Homo sapiens: one gene and its partner. The protein of the gene in region 2 purifies or fractionates together with the protein of the main gene of each other region. This does not show direct contact. Each region holds a gene or a part of one and is shown on either strand. Other genes may lie near its edges.

Region 1 (3,822 bases), on a different chromosome or scaffold from region 2:
ATGGCCTCCTTGGTGGGGAAGGAAGGATGTCCTGAGTTGGGAGCACAGACATCCAGGCCTCCCAGGACAGACAGACACAAACATGAACAGCAGACAGGCCAGCGTGAGCCGATTCTGCCTGGCTTAGTCGTGCATGAAAGGAACCCTAAACTGGTACAAAAGTGGACCTGCAGGCCATCCAGGGAGTGACCATCGTAAAAACACAATAGCCAGTGCCACTCTGTGTACTTCCATAGTCGACCGCGCCAGCAGGAGGCCTCGGAGGATCCTGTCCGGGCCCATAGATGTTTGCTAGCGGGACAAGCTTGGGTGAGTTGAGCATCTGACTCCGTCCTTCCTCCTGAGACACGTGCAGCGAGGGCACCCACTGTGCAGCGAGGGCTCCCGCCGTGCAGTGAGCATACCCCCTGTGCAGTGAGGGCACCTGCCGTGCAGTGAGCATACCCCCCATGCAGCAAAAGCACCCCCCATGCAGCGAGGGCTCCCGCTGTGCAGTGAGCATACCCGCTGTGCAGTGAGGGCACCTGCCGTGCAGGGCTGCTTCAGGGTTTGGCACCATAATGCCTGGATGTGCTCCGTGGCTTCCTCCTTGGTGCCTGTGTTTGGTGGCTGGAAGGCCCAGCACCCTCAGGGCCCAGAACCCTCAGGGAAGTGCCTGGGCATCTGCCAGGAATTAACCCACTGGGTCCCACTTGTCTCAAAGCCTGGCTTGGTAGGATGGCCTGAACTTTGGATGTTTTTCATGCCTTTCGTTACATAGGATCCTCTTGCTGAGGGTGGATCATGCCCTCCACATTGCAAAAGCATCAGAGACCCAGCCCACCCTCGCGTCTGCAGCGGGAAGATGGGCCTGGTGCCAGGCGCGGGCAGCCGCCCCTCCCAGCGTCGGGAAGATGGGCCTCATGCCAGGCATGGGCAGCTGCCCCTCCCAGCGTCGGGAAGATGGGCCTCCGGGTGGTTTTGCGACTCAGTCATCTGCGAATTTCCGGATGCTGCACAGAAGGGGGTGCCAAAGTTTTTTTAAGATGATGTAAAAAAAGCATAAATTTGATAAAAATTATGTCCATTAACCTCATAAGTTTCTACCCATCGGGAAGGATCATCCTTCTGTTTTCAGCAGCAGAAAACTGACCACAGTAGGGGGTTGTCTGTCACTGAGTCCTCAGCTCTGGTGGGAGGGCAGGGTCAGAGCTGGGCAGGGTGGCCAGCTCGGGGATCTGAGCATCTGGGAGCAGGAGGTGGAGGGCCAGGTGAGCACACAGCTGCGAGGAGGTGGAGGACCAGGTGAGCACACAGCTACAGCTACAGGGAGGCTCTGCGCCTGCAGGACAGGTTATTACAGGGGCCGCAGCAGGGCCTGGGCCGCCTCCACTCTGTTGGCTGGGGTTCAGGGGTCCCAGGTCGCCAGGAGCACCTTGCATGTGGCTCGGGATGCACGGAGTCTCCCGTGAGGTGTGGGTTTCTTAGGACCCCAGGGCAGGTGTCCCATGGGAGTATGAACTAAATGCCTTTGTGGACGTTTAGACGTGAAATGTCTGCTCTAGACTCACACACCTGTCTCGCTCCCTCCTTCCAGAACTCTTAAAACGCCTAGATGACGTGTCCAACGATGTGAGGATGGCAGCCGCCTCCACCTTGGTCACCTGGCTGCAGTGTGTCAAGGGTGCCAACGCAAAATCCTACTATCAGAGCAGTGTCCAGTACCTGTACCGAGAGTTGCTGGTTCACCTTGACGATCCAGAGAGGGCCATCCAGGATGCAATTTTAGGTGAGACTCCGACGGCTTGGCCTTCGTTCCGATGCCTGCTTTCGGCGCCTGCCACGGGCATCTGTAGCTGAGCCGTGTGACCGGCCACAGGGCCCTGGGGCACAGGAGGGGCCTCAGCTCCGGCCTGGCACACTCTTGAGTTCTTGGCAAACCCTGAGAGCGGCTGTCTTTGTGGTGATAGCTGCTGACATTTCCTCTAACAGAAATCAAAACTGAGAGTATTCTAGAATACTTGTTAGTTGTTTAAAATAACAATAGTAAGCCCAGTATATATTGACACAGATGGCTTGTGTTTTTGAAAAATACTTTCCAAAACAAAATCATCTGCAAGAACGATTTTTGCAAATGTCTTAAATGTGTAGCTTGATGGAAGACACTGGACTTTCACATCTTCCATACAGTCAGTCATGATGTGTATGGCTCTGGCTGAAATACGTGGAAAATAATCTGGCCTCGCCTGTGGCTTCAAGTGTAGTTGGACAAAAGAAGAGTATTTTAGTAGCCTTTTCAGATAGGCGTGGGACTTCTTCAATACCACGCCAACAGCGACACAGGCCGTCCCTTGAAGGTCACTCACAGCACAGGGCCTGAGGCCACACACCACAGAGCCTTCCACGCTCAGTGCATTAAAATCCGCTGGTCCATCTCACACTTGGAATGTAACGATTTGCTTTTTTTTTTCTTTTTTTTTTTTTTGTTTTGTTTTGTTGTTGGTGAATATAATGACGTTGTTCTTTTTTTTAATAAAATTTGTATTTTTAATTTTTGTGGGTACACATAGGTGTATATAAGGCATGTGTGATACTGTGATACAGGCATGCAGTGTGTGTAAATCACATTGGGGAAATGGGGTCCCCGTCACTTCAAACACTTACACTTTCTTTGTGTTACAAATAATTCAGTGATACTTTTCGTTATGTTTAAATGTGTGATAAATTATTGTTGACCATAGTCACCCTGTTGTGCTATCAAATACTAAATCTTACTCATTCTGTTTTTGTACTCATTAACCATCCCCACCTCTTCCCCCGGCCCCATTCCTCTTCCGAGCCTCTGGGAGCCATCCTTCTGCTCTATCTCCATGAGTTGAATTATTTTTATTTTTAGTTCCCACAAATGAGAATGTGCGGAATTTGCCCTTCTGTGCCTGACTTATTTCACTTAACATAGCGACCTCCACTTCCCTCCATGTTGATCCAATGACTGGATCTCATTTCTTTTGTGGCCGGATAATATTCCACTGCGTGCGCTCCACGTTTTCCTTCTCCCTTCATCTGTCCGTGGACACCCCGGTTGCTTCCACACCTTGGCTGTCGGAACAGTGGGGCATTCGGCGTGCGCGTGCAGCTCTCCCCCATAGCTGAATTCCTCTCTTTTGGGTATTTGCCCAGAAGTGGGATTGCCGGGCTGTATGGGGCTCTATTTTTAGTTTTGGAGGGACCTCCAGACTGTTCTCCCAGCGGTGCTCATTTACATTCCCACCAGCAGCGTGAGGGTTCCCTTGTCTCCACATCCGCGCCGGGACTTGTTTCCGCAGCCATTTTAACTGGGGTCAGAGGATGTCTCACTTGTTTCTATGTGCATTTCTCTGAGGAGCGGTGGTGGTGGGCACCTTTTCAGACGCCTGTTTGTCATTTCCATGCTGTCTTTTGAGAGCTGTCTGTTCAGGTCTTTTACCCATTTTTAATTGGATTATTAGATTGTCTGCTATTGAGCCTGAGCTCCTCATATATTCCAGTGATTAATCCTTGTCAGGCGGCGGTTCTAAGATACAGTCTCCCATCCCGTACCCGCGGGCTGTCCCTGCGGCTGTACTCTGCTCATTCTTCCCTTTGCTGTGTGGAAGCTTTGGGCCTGGATGTGCTGACTTTGCCTTTTGCCTCCTTTGGAAAATACTTAGACCTTCCCCGCGCAGCTGCGTCCGGTTTCCCGGCGTGGCTACATCCGGTTATGCGATGTCGGATCTTCCTGGTGTGGCCGCCTCCCGTCGCGCAGCGTCAGAAACTCGGATCTTCGCGGCGTGGCCGCCTCCCGACACGCGGCGTCAGAAACTC
Region 2 (2,853 bases):
TCTCATCTTGAATTCCCACATGTTGTGGGAGGGACCTTGTGGGAGGTAATTGAATCATGGGGGCAGGTCTTTCCCGTGTTGTTCTCGTGATAGTGAATAAGTCTCATGAGATCTGATGGTTTTAAAAAGGGGAGTTTCCCTGCACTTGCTCTCTCTTGTCTGTTGTCATGTGAGATATGCCTTTCACCTTCCACCATGATTGTGAGGCTTCCCCAGCCACGTGGAACTGTAAGTCCATTAAAACTCTCTCTTTTGTAAATTGCCCAGTCTCAGGCATGTCTTTATCAGCAGCGTGAAAACAGACTAATACAGATGGGGTTTCACCATGTTGGCCAGGCTGGTCTTGAACCCCTGACCTCAAGTTCTCTGCCTGCCTCAGCCTCCCAAAGTGCTGTGATTACAGGCGTGAGCCACTGCACCCGATGAGACTTCCAAGTTTTCATACTGGAAGTCCTGTATCCCAAGAAACCCTTTGGTCCCAAGAAAGAAACCCTATGTCCCAAGAAGGTCCCAGACAACCCACATAGCTGATCAAGCTACTATGCAGGGAAGGGGGTCATATAATTCAGACCTGGACTTGGAGAAGAATGAATGTCTACATGTATCCTCCTTTAGAGGACAAGTCCTGTATTAGGGTGAGAAGCAGAACCAAAACTGAGACTCTCGTGCAAGTGGTTTATTGATGGAGTGCTCTTAGGAGAAGGGGAGTGAGGGAAGCAGCGTAGGACAGAGGAAAAAAACTGAGTAAGAATGTGCTCTCAGAAGAAGACTGACTTCAGCTTGATTCCATGAGGAGCTCTGGGAAAGGAAGTTCCTTGATGTAAGAGGTCAGTCTTTTGTACCTCCATACAAGAGGTAGCAATTCTTTTCTAGAGATGGTCTCAAAATTAGAATACATCAAAATCACTTGGAGGGTTTGGTAAATCAGAATGCTGTGCCAACCCCCAGAGATTCTGATTCAGTAGGTCTGAGGTGGGGCCTGAGGATTTGTATTTCCAGCAAGTTCACAGGTAATGCTGATGATGCACTTTGAAAACCTCCACTCTAGAGAAGAGGACAGCTCTGAGGTGTTAGCACCCACAGCATCTCGCAAAGGGGATCAGGAAAGCACCTACTACATGAAGGCACATGCCAGGGACAGATGGATTGGACCCCAAGCTGGGGCTATGTAGACTACATCTTTAGGTCAGAACATCTAGATTCACAGTATCTTGTATGTTCCTGTTGTCATCTCACATCTCTTGCCAACGCATTGTTGAAACATTCTTACTTGGTCTTGTTATTGGACTTCAAGAGAAGGGTCTGGGAGATACATGAGGCTTTGAAAAGGAAGTAGCTGCAAGTTGCTAGGCAAATATAGTGGCATCAGTTGCAATGGAGTGGAAAGTCCTTAAACGAGTGATCAATATTTAGTGGCAAGACTCTAGACCAACCCTGGAAATTGCCTGATGTTTGTGAAATTAAAAGAAAATGGCTTTGATGGCAACTTTTAATTTCATAAGCCACGCCAGAATTCATAACAGTCTCTGCTCCTGAGGATCACCACCAGGTGAAGGTGAATGAATAAATGTTAAAATGGAATTCGTTTCTTTTGGTGGGGTACGTCAGGTAGAACTTGGAGAATACCTTGTACCCCTGGGCCTTAATGTCCATCTCCAGGCAGTGCATGAGGTCGCTGTTGTCTAGGACCGCCTTCCAGGGCCCAAACTTGACAACAGACTTGAACATCTTCTTATCCTGCAGAAAACACAGGACCTCTGAATAATATGCATCCTGCTCCTCAGTTTCCACCAGGCACACAAGCACGCTGGACTTCCGTGCTGTTATGGCTTCTGCACGTGCCAGGCGCACCATGAGCTCCAGGTTCTCGCTGTAGCCCGGCACTTGCAGCAAAAACTGCTTCCGAGACACCTGCTCACCAAAGATCTGTGGCATGTCCTCCAGCAGCTTGACCAAAGGCTTGATTTCGTAGAACTGAGCCTCACGGTACACTTCAGGGATGTGCTGTGTGGGCACTTGCCCAGTGCGCAGGTAGTCCAGGATGGGTCTGAAATAGGTGCTGGGGCGGTCGATGAAGAAGCGGCCCTCCGCGTCCGTGGAGGCCTTGGCTAAGCTAGAGAACATCTCTGCCAGCTTTGAGCCCGGAAACTTCCTCAGGGTACCCAGGGTGGTGGTGTGGAACTCACCCCCGACGTTCAGCTCCACAACAGTAGACATCTGGGGGCACAAGAGGCAGAGTAAACCAACACGCCATCTCCCCTGAGCGCATTACTTATTTTTATCCAAAGGATAACTGGATAAAAAACTTAGGGGAGCCATAATGATTGGCTTCAGCTAGTGAAAGGCCCATCTTACTAAAGAGGGTTATATTTATGCTGTGTTGCTCCAGGGGGTGGGCTTTTTTTTTTTTTTTCGACGGAGTCTCGCTCTGTCACCCAGGCTAGGGTGCAGTGGTGCAATCTCGGCTCACTGCAACTTCCACCTCGATTAAAGCAACTCTCCTGCCTCAGCCTCCCTAATCGCTGGGACTGCAGGCGCCTGCCATCATGCCCAACTAATTTTTGTATTTTTAGTAAAGACGAGGTTTCGCCATGTTTGCTAGTCTGGTCTCAAACTCCTGACCTCACGTGATCCGCCTGCCTCAGCCTCCCACAGTGCCCGGCCGAGGGTGGGCATTTTAAAGAGGAAGAAAGATTTCTGTTTGAAAAAAGAATACCCATTCAAGCATCTTAATTTTAGGTCATAGAATGTTATGGGAGGAGGCCAGGCACGGTGGCTCACGCCTGTAATCCCAGCACTTTGGGAGGATGAGGCAGGCAGATCACCTGAGGTCAGGAGTTCAAGACAAGCCTG

What was found.
Region 1: the proteins of KCTD14 (region 2) and DNAAF5 purify together in Homo sapiens (affinity purification with mass spectrometry; one large-scale study listed by BioGRID and IntAct). This does not show direct contact.

Annotation. Positions count from the first base shown.
Region 1 is NC_000007.14:778,377-782,198, forward strand, and holds part of DNAAF5 (dynein axonemal assembly factor 5), read left to right. Parts: intron 1-1,576; coding exon 1,577-1,768; intron 1,769-3,822. UniProt on the Homo sapiens protein: Cytoplasmic protein involved in the delivery of the dynein machinery to the motile cilium.
Region 2 is NC_000011.10:78,015,054-78,017,906, forward strand, and holds the end of KCTD14 (BTB/POZ domain-containing protein KCTD14), read right to left. Parts: intron 2,218-2,853; coding exon 1,540-2,217; 3' UTR 662-1,539; downstream 1-661.